Linked DNA regions of Homo sapiens. The protein of the gene in region 4 purifies or fractionates together with the protein of the main gene of each other region. This does not show direct contact. Each region holds a gene or a part of one and is shown on either strand. Other genes may lie near its edges.

Evidence for each region.
Region 1: the proteins of ERN2 (region 4) and UGGT1 purify together in Homo sapiens (affinity purification with mass spectrometry; one large-scale study listed by BioGRID and IntAct). This does not show direct contact.
Region 2: the proteins of ERN2 (region 4) and PDIA6 purify together in Homo sapiens (affinity purification with mass spectrometry; one large-scale study listed by BioGRID and IntAct). This does not show direct contact.
Region 3: the proteins of ERN2 (region 4) and SEC16A purify together in Homo sapiens (affinity purification with mass spectrometry; one large-scale study listed by BioGRID and IntAct). This does not show direct contact.

The regions. Positions count from the first base shown.
Region 1 is NC_000002.12:128,174,569-128,178,201, reverse strand, and holds part of UGGT1 (UDP-glucose:glycoprotein glucosyltransferase 1 precursor), read right to left. Parts: intron 3,430-3,633; coding exon 3,344-3,429; intron 1,389-3,343; coding exon 1,304-1,388; intron 371-1,303; coding exon 282-370; intron 1-281. UniProt on the Homo sapiens protein: Recognizes glycoproteins with minor folding defects. Reglucosylates single N-glycans near the misfolded part of the protein, thus providing quality control for protein folding in the endoplasmic reticulum.
Region 2 is NC_000002.12:10,806,284-10,809,916, reverse strand, and holds part of PDIA6 (protein disulfide-isomerase A6 isoform d precursor), read left to right. Parts: intron 1-3,633. UniProt on the Homo sapiens protein: May function as a chaperone that inhibits aggregation of misfolded proteins. Negatively regulates the unfolded protein response (UPR) through binding to UPR sensors such as ERN1, which in turn inactivates ERN1 signaling.
Region 3 is NC_000009.12:136,476,539-136,480,171, forward strand, and holds part of SEC16A (protein transport protein Sec16A), read right to left. Parts: intron 2,293-3,633; 5' UTR 2,171-2,292; intron 1,147-2,170; 5' UTR 1,078-1,146; coding exon 1-1,077. UniProt on the Homo sapiens protein: Acts as a molecular scaffold that plays a key role in the organization of the endoplasmic reticulum exit sites (ERES), also known as transitional endoplasmic reticulum (tER).
Region 4 is NC_000016.10:23,692,660-23,696,523, forward strand, and holds part of ERN2 (serine/threonine-protein kinase/endoribonuclease IRE2 isoform a precursor), read right to left. Parts: intron 3,320-3,864; coding exon 3,235-3,319; exon of another isoform or gene 3,072-3,234; intron 2,731-3,071; coding exon 2,541-2,730; intron 2,460-2,540; coding exon 2,360-2,459; intron 2,269-2,359; coding exon 2,069-2,268; intron 1-2,068. UniProt on the Homo sapiens protein: Induces translational repression through 28S ribosomal RNA cleavage in response to ER stress. Pro-apoptotic. Appears to play no role in the unfolded-protein response, unlike closely related proteins.

The sequences.
Region 1 (3,633 bases), on a different chromosome or scaffold from region 4:
GTAAACTGAGCAGGGAGCAGTCAAATTTCCAAAGAGCAGGTACAGGCAATGAGAGTCACAAAGTATGGAGCAGAAGTAACTTCCCCACTAGGAGACATGAACCTCTTTTGGATCAATCGAGTGGAAAATACTCATCTATGCCAAATATAAGTGTGAGATGTAGCTGCACAAAGTAGAATGTGAAAGGCCCAGACAGAATCACAAGATGCAAAAAGGAGGGATGGATGGTGCTTATATCTCAGTTTTTCCTTAAAAACATAACTCTTACAATGTCAACTTACCATTTGAAGGAATCCCAAAATCCAGATTCATTCTCACTCGTTCCATCACTCAGCAAGTCTTCGTTCACCATATCTGCCTTCTTCTGAACCTGCAATCAAATGTGATAAACCTTACTCCCAGTATGTCTCACAGGCATAAAACTGCCTCTCACTGGATATACACTGTGAGCCTGTCATCAATAGGGAATTATCAATCAATTCTCTCACAAACAGGCACAACCCCACCCAGAGTCTAGAAGGATTCAATAGAAGTATCTTCGCCAGGACATTCACATCATAACCTTATGTGAGGAGACAGCAACCTCTTTTAATTAGATGAACCCCATTTTCAGCTTGCAACATAGGCAAAGAGCCGCAAACTCAACTGTGCAGTGAAACCAGAAGCACGATTCAATGAGTCAACAGCTAGTTCCAGGGAAGAGTGTGGCTGCTGGGGGCTCTAGCTGTTGGGAGGGAGGTATTTCATGTTATGACCAGTTTTCAGGATTCACTAGCACAAACAGGGGTTTCTTCTTGGCAGTACAGTGACCATTTTTCTTCTCAACAATGGATGGCCTATTTTAGGTTTCACTGTGTGTAATGATTCTTTCTTCAAGAATATACTGTACTTGAATTTAAGGCACTAAGAGCTTCAACATTCAGAGAACGGAAAGTACAAGTCAAAAGAAATTAAATAGGACTATCATTTTATTATTGTTGAAAATTTCCATTGCCAGTTCCCCCAATATTGAGAAAAGAATCATCAACAACACTATGAATTGTGGCTATATAAACAACATAGCATCTATGAGAATATTTTATATAAGATGGGACATGTTCTGCACACCGAGATTACCCAAAAGGTACAATCTTTCAGTTGAGGGAAGCCACAAACTCACAGTTACAAAGACATTTTGCCTTAAAGCAGTATCCCTATAATTGCCATAGCAAATTCCAAAGAGACTCTTGGGCTGGTTCCAAGATACATATTTTTAAATGACAGCTGTCCAATAACAGAATGCCACTACTTTTACCAAACTCACCTTCACTTTAATAATTTTGCTTTTGAAGTTGTTGAGGACGATAACCACCTCATCAGCATCAGGGGGAGAATCAGTGCCATCGTGGCTTTGCGAGAAAAGAAAGATCAATATTACAAGGCACAATTCTCAAAAGGCAGCAAATGCTCTCAGAGCATCTGAGTCCATCATCCTTCTCATAAAGGAGTTTTCCAGATCCAGCTATCTTCTTGCTCCTTAAGCTCCTTCGAGCTGCACAGAAGCACGTGTTGAAACCTCTCTTTATATAAGGTGCATGCCCAAACCTCCTTTGTGAGTCCTCTTGCAAATTACCCATCACGTAGTGAGAGGCACCCATGTGTGGTAACCACATGGTGAGTACTAAACAACCGCCTGTGTTCACAAGCTCTGAGCCAAGCACAGAGCCTTCGATAAAGGAATGCAGGGAACAGGCCCCCTGAACCATTATTGGAACCACACTGCCTCCGCTCTTTTTTTTTTTTTTTTTTTTTTTTGAGACAGAGTTTTGCTCTGTTGCCCTGGAGTGCAGTAGAGCAATCTCGGCTCAATGCAACCTCCACCTCCGGGGTTCAAGTGATTCTCCTGCTTCAGCCTTCAGGTAGCTGAGTTTACAGGCACCCACCACCACGCCTGGCTAATTTTTGTATTTTAGTAGAGACAGGGTTTCACCATAGTGGCTAGGCTGGTCTCAAACTCCTGACCTTAAGTGATCCACCCTCCTCGGCCTCCCAAAGTGTTGGGATTACAGGCGTGAGCCATCACCCATCACTCCCGGCCACTACTCTTTAACTGGAATAGTGTTGTAAAGGAAATCTGCTCGCTCTTTCTGCCGGAGGCAACAATCAGTCAACAATAGGCCCTGTACTCAACCTGGTGTCTATACGCTACCAGAAAAACTGTAACAAATTCTATTTGCAGGCAGACAGGAGCAGAGGAAGAAAAATTAAATGTATGTTTCCCTACTAATCAACAGCAATGCCTAAAATTTCCAGTCACCAAATTTCAAGGTGCAGAAAGTCATAATTACAACATGAATTCACTGCATTTGCTGTCATCTAGCAGAGAGTAGGGTTCTCAGGCAAAGGAAGATTCTAATGGGGGTGGGGCCCTGAACAGCTAGGAAGAGGGGGCACCATGCTCCTGGGAAGGGGAGGGCTGGCAAGGGCCAGGGCATCCAAAAGGGAAGGAGTTCGGAAGTGCATCCCAAATTTTGTAAAACCTTATCTGAGGAAAATGTTATGTGGGAAAAAACCTTCTACTGTTTACAATGGTGTTATTATAATACAGAATTCTTCTATTTCCTGGGTAAGAACCAGGCACTAATCCACTGTTTCATGTGTGTCGCTACGGAGCTAATTAAGGCAAGGACATACTACAGAGTGCTTCAAATGTGCCCTAATGGAAATCATCCCCTACACAACCTGACGGGAAGCCTCTTCACACAGTTTAAAACTAATTTAAATTGTGTTAAGCAGAATTTATATCAAACTTTTTTAAAGGCAACATAATTATTTTTAAACTAATAAATATGTGCAGTAAACCTTAAGGTAAAAGCTGGCTATAGAGGGAATGTTCTTACTATGCCACCACAGACCAAGGAATACCAGCACTAACAGCACAGCTTCAAGACCAAAGCTTCCATGTACTGTGCATTTGCAAATCACTCAGGGTCAACACATACACTCTCTGGGCAGAAAAGTGTGGCTGTTCTTTCTTTCTTTTCTCCTTTCTTCAAGTTTCTCATCTGCCTATCTATGAGCCGCATCACACTGATAGAATGATTTGATTCTGGGATATTGTTAGCACAAAGGAATAATTAAAGAATAAAGCCTGACTATACTCATTAGCATCTATACCTCTTATTATCTAATTCTATTCTAACAATTCTTCCATATTTAATTTCCTGGAAAAACCACTGTTTCATCACATACAACTGCAAATTAAATTCATGTTGCCTGGCTAACTGCCAGGGTAGTATTCAATTAGAGCTAATGCTCATTTCTAAAAGTTCTGGGATAATGTAACTGCATCACTTACTCCTACCTGTAAATTCTATAAATATCTTCAGAGCGTCCCTTCCTAAGTCTGAGGATCCAAGCTCCTGGGTTGGCTTTCAGCTGAAAGTAGCCCTAGGACAAGAAGAAAAGTCCAGTTAGCTCTCTTCAAAACACCAAAATGTTATTTCTGAGGAACAGTTACTTCTATTTCTGAAATATCAATCAACTATAATGTGAATAACACAGTAAACAAATCAATGCAACTCTTAAAAAACCAAAACTACACATTAAAAACTCTAGCACAGACCAGGTGCGGTGGCTCACGCCTGTAATCCC
Region 2 (3,633 bases), on a different chromosome or scaffold from region 4:
AATCAAAATTCAGTCAGTAGTGGATTGACTAAATGGTTCAGCCATTAAAAATGGTTACATTGGAGTAATTTTAAAATTCTTAAGTAGAAAATATCTGTAACTTACTCTTTTGCTTTTCCATTTTTGAAAATTTCACAATAGGCTCAGTGTACTGAGCAAGTACCAAATTCATATCGATTTTACAAAAAAGATAAAGTTCTTTAAAAGTAGTACATCTCTGTAGAAGATTATCCTATTTTTTGGGTTTTTTTTTTTTTTTTTTTTTTTTTTTGAGACCGGGTCTTGCTCTGCCTCCCAGGCTCAAGCAATCCTCCCACATCAGCCTCTGGAGTAGCTGCGGCTACAGATGCACCCTACCATACCGAGCTAATTTTTGCATTTTTGTATTTCATATTTTTTCTCTACAAGAGATGGAGTTTTGCCATGTTGCCCAGGCTGGTCTCAAACTCCTGGCTCAGGTTATCCACCCGCCTCATCCTCCCAAAGTTCTGGGATTACAGGCCTAAGCCACCACACCCAGCCTTAGTCTTACTTTCAAGCTTATTCAGAGTTAGGACTGTCAGTGCTTATGTTCTTGATTTACTTGGCTTTGTTAAACGTGTCAAACTCTACTTCACCTTTTCTGCAGCAGTGAAAAGATTAATGAGCAGTGCCATCCAATAGAAATATAATGCAAACATATATGTAATTTTAAATTTTCTAGTAGCTACATTTAAAATGGCCAAAAGAAACAGGTGAAATTAATATATTTACTGAGTATATCTAAGATCATTTAAACATGTGTTTTCAAAATGAAAAATAATATTGAGGCCGGGCACGGTGGCTCACGCCTGTAATCCTCGCACTTTGGGAGGCCAAGGTGGGCGGATCACCTGAGGTCAGGAGTTCAAGACCAGCCTGGCCAACATGGTGAAACCCCATCTCTACTAAAATACAAAAATTAGCCGGGCATGATGGCTGATGCCTGTAATCCTGAGACGGGAGAATCGCTTGAACCCAGGAGACAGTGGTTGCAGTGAGCCAAGATTGCACCACTGCACTCCAGCCTGGGCAGCTGAGTGAGACGCCGTCTCAAAAAAAAAGAAAAATAATGAGATTACATTTTTCCCTCCATTAAGTCTTCAGAATTCAGTGTGTTTTTACCAGCATATCTTAGTTTGGGGTAGCCACATGTAGCTAGTGGCTATCATGCTGGATAACCTGTTACTGAGAGAGCAGCCCCGCTTTGGTTAGCCTGGCATCCATTCACAGGCATCCTTTCCCACCTCTTGAAATGGAAAAGGAGATCATCCTATCAAAGGCTACTCCATCACTGACTGGGTTCCCGCTCCTCTTCTGACTCTGGGCATTTTATTCAGATACTCCCTGTATTTTATCTTTGGCCTCTCCCACTGCATATGTCTTCCTCTCCTAGATCACTCCCATCTTCAAAGAAAACCTTCCTTGTTTTCTACATTTGCCTGCCTCTGGTCTCTATAATGAAACCTGCTTAAAGAGTTACCTATATTCTCTCCAACCTTCTGCAGACTGCATGCCTGTTATTTTCACTCCACCACAACTGCCAGGGCTCCCAGTGACTTCTTTGTCACTAAATCCAATCAGTAGATGGTTTTAAGTCTTTGCTACTTTATCTCCCAGTAGCATTTGTTAGTGTGGCCCCTTCCACATGTATCTTGGTTTATGTGACACCACTCTGGATAATTCTCCCAATCCACCTTCCACATGGCAACTGGAATACTCCTTCTAGAAAGCATAAATCTATTCTTTCCTCTGAATGATAACCCTTTAGTGGCTTCACTATTAGTAAAATTAACAGTTTTATAAGTTCTTACAGTATTGGCTATATCTGTGATTCAAATGCAGTGTAAATCTTGAATACCATAATTGTTCATTCATACCTATAGCGTACAGAACCACTTTATCTTGAGCACTAAAAAGACAGCATGGTGTAATAGGAAAAGCTTGGAAATGGAGAGCTGCCCTGCCCCTTATATGTATGACCATAGATGGGCCATTTGGTCTAGACCTTTATTTACAAAATGGGGATAAGTCCTACTTTCTAGTTAGTAATGCTGTCAAAAATTAAGTGATCTAACATTTGATAGTGATTTGAAAAATTGAACGTGTTGTATGATGGAGGATTTAGCAGTAAAACAATGAACAATGGTGTACACTCCTTCCAGAAAAAGTGTACCATTTAGTTATTCCAAAAAGGTCCATTTGAAATCTTCCAAATTCTAATTGTGAAGCAAGCATGTGAAAATGTAACTAAGATGGCATGTACACACACTACTTGAGAACACAGGCCAGTCTCACTTATAATTTGCTATATCAACAAATTAAAAGGAAGAAATGATATGATCAACTTCAGAGATGCTGAAAAGACAGGAATAGATAGAAATTTCGTTAACATTGTAAGTACATTTTGGCCTGGCGTGGTCACTCATACCTGTAATCCCAGCACTTTGGGAGGCAGAGGCAGGAGGATCACTTGAGACCAGCCTGGGCAACACAGGGAGACCCTGTCTCTACAAAAAATTTAAAAGTTAGCCAGGGATGCACCTGTAGTCCCAGCTACTGGGGGTGCTGAGGTGGGAGGATCACTTGAGCCCAGGAGGTCAGGGCTGCTGCAGGGAGCTGTGTTTGCACCATTGCACTCCAGTCTGGGTGACAGATCAAGACCCTCTCTCAAAAAAAATTAAAAAGTGTATTTATTTCAATCCAAAAGCCAGCATGATGCAAATAGGAAAACCTTGTTGAAGTCAAGAATAGTCTGAGGATATTCCATTATTTACCTTGTTCTAGAGGTAATCAGCAAATTTTTGTATATTGTCATGTGTTGCTTAACATTAGAGACGTGATCTGAATTATGATCAACTTCAGAGATGCTGAAAAGACAGGAATAGAAATTTCTTTAATTGCTATTGTATCAGACGATTTCTTCATTGTGAATAACATCAGTGTGTACTTAATACAAACCTAGATGGCATAACTTACTAAAAACCTAGGCTACATGGTATAGCTTATTTCTCTTAGGTTATAAATCTGTTCGGCATGTTACTGTACTGAATATTGTATGCAGTTGTAACACAATGGCAAGCATTTGTGTATCTAAACATAGAAAGGGTGCAGTAAAAATATGATATAAAAGATTAAAATAGTACACCTGTACAGGACATTTACCGTGAATGCAGCTTGCATGACTGGGGGTTGCTCTAAAAATTTTATTTCTTGGATAATAGATTAACCTTAATTTACTGTAACGTTTTTCTTTCTTTCTTTCTTTCTGTCTTTATTTTTTAGGAGATGTGGTTTTGCTATTCTGTGTTGGCCAGCCTGGTTTTGAACTGCTGGCCTCAAGCAGTCCTCCCACTTTGGCCTCCAAAGTGTTGGGATTATAGGTGTGAGCCATGGCATCTGGTCAACATTTTACTTTCTAAACTTAATTTTTTTTTTTTAACTTTTTGGCTCTTGTAAAAACACTTACCTTAAAACGCATTATACAAAACAGCAGTACAAAAATATTTTCTCTCTTTTTTTTTTTTTTTTGAGACAAGGTCTTGCCCTATCAGGCTGGAGTGAGTGGTGCATCACAGCCCACTGCACCCGTAGCCTCGACCTCCCTGGGCTCAG
Region 3 (3,633 bases), on a different chromosome or scaffold from region 4:
ACAGCCAGACCCGGCCCCAGCCCCCAGTGGGTGGTGCGTACGGTTTTCTGGGCTATCTCCCCGGGCGAGGGGGTTCACAAGAGCAGAGGCGGGCCGGTGCTCATTCTTCACTCCTGGATTCTGCCTGAGCTCTGGGCTTGCCCAGTGATTCACAATTCTGGGATTTTGCCTGAATGTACTTTCAGGATCAGAGTTATTGGCCAGGTGGCTTCCACTTTGCAAGTGGCTCACCTCGTCTCTTCCGTCACTGGGCAAGGCTGCTGGGGGAGCCACCAGAGGGCTGTGTTGCTCATGACCAGGGCCCTGATGTAGGATGGACGGGGTGGGGAAATGAGGAACGCTGGTGGCACAGGGCACCCCGCTGGGAACAGGTCCTTCAGGGCAGGGTGAACGATGTTGCCCCGAGGGCTGTGGGCCTCCCTGCACTGGCCCCCACTGTCCTGGCATCTGCAGACCAGGCTGAGGGAGGGAAGGGGATGCTGCTGGGGTGACCACACCGTCATGTGGGTTTTGCCTGCTCAGGGGTCGGTCGAGCCCAGGCATGTTCCCATGAGGGTGGCCCCCATGAGACGTTTCAGGATCCACTCCTGGAATGTAGTGAGGAAGATATGGCAGAGTCTGAACTTCAGGCTCTGAACTGGGACCGACCTCTGCACTCCTGTTCATCTCAGGCCCAGGAGGTGCTGAAGGTGTCAATGCACCAGAAAACGGACTGGCATGTGCTCTGGGCTGTGTCAGAGGTCCAGGCAGGGGCTCACAGGGTCCCTGAGAGCTATCTCTGGCATGTGTGTGAGGAACAAGCAAACCGGGGTGCTGAGAAAACCCTGCGGGGGCTGGGCCTTGCAAGACAGGTGGACTGCTTTTGGACGAACTGCCCAGTGGTGTACTTTGGAGCGCCTGTCTACTAAAAGCAAATGGATCCGTGACCGGCTGCAACGGGCAAGTTGTCGGAGCCACTGCTGCATTATTATTAGCCCGTCTCCTGTAAGGGCTGCTAGCCCAGAACACGCTCCGAGGATTCCCGGCTGGAGGTGGCCCAGCCATGCCAGACGGGACCGTCTGGGGCGGTGGCTGCATGACTGAACCCTTGCACAAGTCGATGCTGCTTACAGAAGGAAGCAGGATATAGCTGTTCCTTAATTGGAGCTGGAAAAGAAAAAGAGAAAATCAGCATAAAATCCATATATTCAAAGTCCTAGCTGCAATCAGGAAAACTAAGGAAAAAGAGAAACATTGAACATGATTTTATGTCACTTAAATCCCAAGGACTCTCTCTCCCCTACACCCCACCCCAGCAGAGAACACCTGTCCCTGAGGAACTGTTCTGGGGGGCAGGGGACAGAGTGAGAACCCTGGATGGCCTGGCTGCGAGCTGATGGAGTATGTCTAGATGGCCACTCCCTCCCCTGGGATCCTCTACTCACAGGGCCCATTGCTGCCGCAGACCCGCGCCACAACAACAGGGACAGTGCGGAACCTGACCACTGCTGTGATATGCTACCAGACCCACAGATACTCAATGTTTTCCTGTAAACCATCCCTAGATCCAGGAAGAGCCAACTCTTCTATTAAGAAAGAAAAACTGGCCAGATATGGTGGCTTACGCCTGTACTCCCAACACTTTAAGAGGCCAAGGCGGGAGGACCACTTGAGCCCAGGAATTCGAGGCCAGCCTGAGCAACAGGGGGATCTCGTTTCTACAAAAAATACAAAAATCAGCCAGGCATGGTGGTGCACACCTGTAGTCCCAACTACTCAGGAGGCTGAGGCAGGAGGATTGCGTCAGCCTGGGAGGTTGAGGCTGTCGTGAGCTATGACAGCACCACTACCCTTCAGCCTGGGTGACACAGTGAGTCCCTAGCTCAAAAAAAAAAAAAAAAAAGGAAAACTTTATATCATACTTTCCATACATGTTAATTTTAAATTTCAAAAGGGATACAAAAGTTTAAAATTCATTCTTCCATTTTCTTTGATGAAAGAGCATTATGAAGTATAGTTATAAAAGCTGCAAAATAGGCTGGGTGCAGTGGCTCATGCCTGTAATCCCAGCACTTTGGGAGGTCAAGGTGGAAGGACTGCCAGAGCCCAGGAGGTCGAGACCAGCCTGGGCAACATAGCAAGACCTTGTCTCTACAAAAGAAGAAAGTTAGCCAGACATGGTGGCACACACCTGTAGTCCCAGGGACTCAGGGGGTTAAGGAAGGAAGATCACTTGTGTCCATGAGTTCGAGGCTGCAGTGAGCTATGATTATACCACCGCGGTCCAGCCTGGGCAACAGAGCAAGACGGTCTCTATTTTAAAAAAATAAATAAATAAAAAGTGACACAATCATTTTTTTAAAAAGCACTGCAAAATAAATATATTCATCTAAATGCCTTTTATCACACCTCTTCATAGGTCTCCGTTTTTGTACTGTGACTGGCTTAAGGTCTGAAAGGACCACCAGCAAGATGTTACCTTTGAACTGGAGCCGTAACTGTGCCTGGAATGGAAACTCCCAGGAAACTTAAAGCAGCTTTACAAGGCACAGACTGGATTCCAACACTTTCAACAACAGGCAGAATTGCCAAGAAACCTCTTACAGAAAAGAAAGGGGCAAAAACCTCCATCAGTTTTTAAATAAAACATAGTAGATACAAACTTGAATAGTTAACCTGGCCTCTTAAGGCAAAAATTCAAGGACTATATCTTTAGGAAAGTTCTTTTCTTTCTATCAGTCTTTCTTCTTGTCAGCACCACCCTCATGAACAAACAGATAAGTTTAGCCAATCAAAGGAAAAATTAAACCAAAGGGGAGGACTCTGTAGTTTAATCCACACATTTTTTTTTTTGAGACGGAGTCTTGCTCTGTCGCCCAGACTGGGGTGCAGTGGTGCGATCTCGGCTCACTGCAAGCTCCGCCTCCCAGGTTCATGCCATTCTCCTGCCTCAGCCTCCTGAGCAGCTGGGACTACAGGCACCTGCCACCATGCCAGGCTAATTTTTTGTCTTTTCAGTAGAGATGGGGTTTCACCATGTTAGCCAGGATGGTCTTGATCTCCTGACCTCATAATCCACCCGCCTCGGCCTCCCAAAGTGCTGGGATTACAGGCGTGAGCCACCGTGCCTGGCCAATCCACACATCTTTGCAGATGTATATTATTTTGGTCTCTTGGAAATCTTTCTGATATTCAGATAAAAGAAGAAAACACTGGCCAGGTGCAGTGGCTCACACCTGTAAGCCGAGCACTTTGGGAGGTAGGAGGACCACTCGAGTTCAGCAGTTTGAGACCAGCCTGGGCAACACACAGCGATACCCCATCACCAAAAAAAAAATGCCGGTCGTGGTGGTGCGTGCCTGTAGTCCCAACTACTCGGGAGGCTGAGGTGGGAAGATCGCTTGAGCCAGGGAGGTTGAGGCTGCAGTGAGCCTTGTTCAAGCCACAACACTCCAGCCTGGGCGACAGAGTGAAACTGTCTCAAAAAAAAAAAGAAGAAAACACTGATCAATGTATTTTAAGTCAAGCTATTTACTAGGAACAGCAGCAAAGGCTTCATGGAGGTTTTAGGCTCTCATCTGAAAACAAAGAATGTTCACAGCTCTATTTTATATGGACTGAAAGGAGAACAGGCAGAGCATCTTCCTCTGATCT
Region 4 (3,864 bases):
TCTGCAGGGGCAGCTGGTCCTTAGCTTCAACCGGTTGTCACCAGGGGACTCTCCAGGGTGGCAGAGCTGATTTTGTTTTTTTTTTTGTTGGGGCTTTGCTCATGTTGCCCAGGCTAGAGTGCAGTGGCGCAACCACAGCTCACTGTAACCTCAAACTCCTGGGCTCAAGCAATCTACCTCGGCCTGAGTAGGTGGGACTACAGGCATGTGCCACCATGCCTGACCAATTTTTAAATTGTTTGTAGAGATGGGTCTTCTTATGTTACCCAGCCCGATCTTGAACTTTTGGCCTCAAGCGATTCTGATTTTTTTTTTTTTTAAAGAAAATCCAGAAATCCAAATTTTATGTGGAATTTCTCAAATGTTAAAATATTGGGCCAGGCATGTGGCTGACACCTTGTAATCCCAGCACTTTGGGAGGCCAGGAGTTCAAGACCAGCGTGGGCAACATGGTGAGACCCTGCCTCTACAAAAAAATACAAAAATTAGCTGGGTGCCATGTTGTGTGCCTGTAGTCCCAGCTACTTGGGAGGCTGAGGTGAGAGGATCCCTTGAGCCCAGGAGTTTAAGGCTGCAGTAAGCTGTGATGGTATGACTGCACTCCATGACAGAGCAAGACCCTGTCTCAAAAATATATATATATAGGGCCAAGCACAGTGGCTCATGCCTATAATCTCAGCACTTTGGGAGGCCGAGGTAGGTGAATCACCTGAGGGCTGGGAGTTCGAGACCAGCCTGGCCAACATGGCATAAACCCCATCTCTACTAAAAATACAAAAATTAACTGGGCATGGTGGCACCTGCCTATAGTCCCAGCTACTAGGGAGGCTGAGGCAGGAGAATCACTTGAACCCAGGAGGTGGAGGTTGCAGTGAGCTGAGATCATGTCACTGCACTCCAGCTTGGGCAACAAGAGCGAAACTCCATCTCAAAAAAAAAAAAATATATATATATATAGGCCACTAATTTAAATATAAACTGTATAGTCTCATGACATCATGCATTTAGTCCTTGAGCCCTGCTCACCACTTTGAGCTTTCTCTCAACTTTAGGAGTGGGGGCAGCCTTCCCTGGTGACTGTCCTTTTGTGTGATTGGCATCCATTTCTCTGGCTTCAACTTCCGCCCACACACTGTGACTCAAAATCCGTAATTCAGGGGTCCCAAACGCAAGTGTCTGTGTGGGTCAGACGCTGCTCTGTGTATCAACTAATTAGCTCATCTGATGCCCTCCAAAACCTTCGATACCAGTGGTTCTGGAACTTGGCTCCACATAAAAATGACCCAGGCAATTAGGTAAAAATCACGGGGTGTGGGGCCTGGGGTTTTGTTTGTTTGTTTGTTTTTTGTTTTTTGAGAGAAAGAGTCTCACTCTGTTGTCCAGGCTAGAGTGCAGTAGTGTGATCTTGACTCTGGAACTTCCACCTCCCAGGCTCAAGCGATCCTCCCACCTCAGCCTCCCAAGTAGCTGGGACCACAGATGCACACACCCACACCGGCTAAATTGTGTGTGCTTTTGGTAGAGACGAGGTCTCCCTAGGTTACCCAGGCTGGTCTCGAACTCCTGAGCTCAAGCAATCTGCCTGCCTCGGCCTCTCAAAGTGCTGGGATTACAGGCGTGAGCCACCGCACCCGGCAATGGGCATTCTTTTTTTAAGTTGCGCAGTGGTTGTGAAGCACAGTGAAGATTACAAACCATTTTCTAGCTCAGGGTTTCCCAACCTCAGCACAACTGGCATTTTGTTAGTTCTTTGTGTTGGGTGTTGTCCTGTCCTGTAAGACATTTAGCAGCATTTCCAGCAGATGCCAGTAGCCCCTCCCTCCCAAGTCATGGCAGTCAAAAATGTCTCCAGACATTGCCTAATGTCCCCTGGGTGGCAAAACAGTCCTGATACTGCTGTAGAAGGAGGGACAAATTATCCCTTCTTTAAGGGAAACAAGCTTGGAGGAGCAGCTCAAAGTCACACAGCAAGTGTCATGGAGTCTCCTCAGGAGGGGAACTGGGACAGGGACGGATTCCTGCAGCCTGGGGCAGCTGTGTGCCTGGAGGACTTGGTGGATAGACTCACAGGACTGTCTGGTGGCAGGAGCTGCAGAAGCTCGGGCGCCATCCAGCCTTCCGTGCCGGGGATGCCGGAGTGGAGGCTGAAGCTACAGCGGCCAGCAGGCAGCTTCTTGCAGAGGCCGAAGTCTGAGAGCACCACTCTGCCCAGGCCCTGGCTGTCAGGCCCGGTGATGAGAATATTTCCTGGCTTCAGGTCCCGGTGCACTGTGGGAGAGGGGCAGAAAGAAAGCTGGTTGCTGAGGGCGGAAGGCAGGGGCTAAGGACAGGGAGCGGGAGGCAGGGGAAGTGCGGGTACCTATGTGTAAAGAGTGCAGGTGGGCCAGGCCAGACATCAGCTGCTGCAGCACGACCTCGGGCTCCAGACCCCCGCGATCCAGGTCCGGGTTTTCTACGTACTGAGCAGCAGCAAGGGCCAAAGCATCACTCTCCAGCCCGGACCTTCCCACTCACCCTCCCTGAACCGCAATGCAACTCACCTCCTGCAAGGAGGCCCGGCAGAGCTCCAGGGCAATGTAGTGGAACTGGGGTCCCCGCTCGGTGCAGAAGTAGCGGAGCACGTTGGGGTGCCTGTCAGACTCCTGCAGCAGTTGAACTTCCCGCCGAACCAGGCCAAAGCACTCGCGGAGGAGCCGCTTGACAGCCACTGCCCGTCCCTCAAACTGTCCCCTGGAAAGTGGGTGATGGCGGGGGCAGGGGGGCATTCAGGGAAAGCAGATAAAGGGACAAACATGGTGGCTCACACCTGTAATCCTAGCACTTTGGGAGGCCAAGGCGGGCGGGTCACTTGAGGTCAGGAGTTCGAGACCAGCCTGGCCAACATGGTGAAACCCCCATCTCTACTAAAAAAAATATAAAAATTAGCCGGGCATGGTGATACACACCTGTAATCCCAGCTACTGGGAAGGCTGAGGCCCGGAATTGCTTGAACCTGGGAAGCGGAGGTTGCAGTGAGCTGAGATTGCACCACTGCCCTCCAGCCTGGGCAACAGAGCAAGACTCAAAAAAAAAAAAAAAAAAAAAAAAACAGATAAAGGAAAGAGCAGGACTGGCGAGTGAGGGATCAACCTGTACCCACCTCGGGGAGTCTTTGAAAGAATGTCTCTCCAGGGGACAGTGCCCACGAGGGCTGTGAGTGCCATGTCCCCAGCTTGGCTCCTGGCTGCCACTCACCGGAAAACGAAAGTCCCGCCTGCCCCGCGGCCCAGCACGTCCTTGGGATTGAAGGAAATCTTCCCCACTACGGTGAGTTGCTCAGCTGGGGGAGAGGAGGGTGGTGACTCAGGGAGCCTCTGCCCACCTTTGCCGGCCACTGGCCCAGTCCAGACTCACCTTGACATTTTCTGGGCCTCCACCCTCCCATGCTCAGCCTGGTGCAGTGGGTAAGAGCAAGGGCCCAAGTGCCAGACTGTCTGGATCCAATGCCTGGTGCTGCCACTGATTCTTTGTCTACTTAGGCAAATTCCTCACTTCTGTGCCCTCGGTATTCTCATCTGTAGAGTGGGGAGCTAAAGCTAAAGAGCCCACACAATATTATTGTGAGGATTAAATGGATATATGGAAAGAACGGGTGGAGGTGATGTTTGCTATATTATCCTCTTTTATTTCTCTCCCTCTTTCAGCATCTTCTGCACAGGTTTGTTTTGTTTTGCTTTGTTTTCCCTTTACATCCTCTGCCATTCTGCCCACCTCCACCAGTTGTAACTGAATCCTTTTAATTGACACTGAATCAGCTTCAACTTCAAGGTAAGGTGAGTTCTGGCAGTTGGAAGAGTGATGAGAGTGAGTATAGCCACAGAAAAA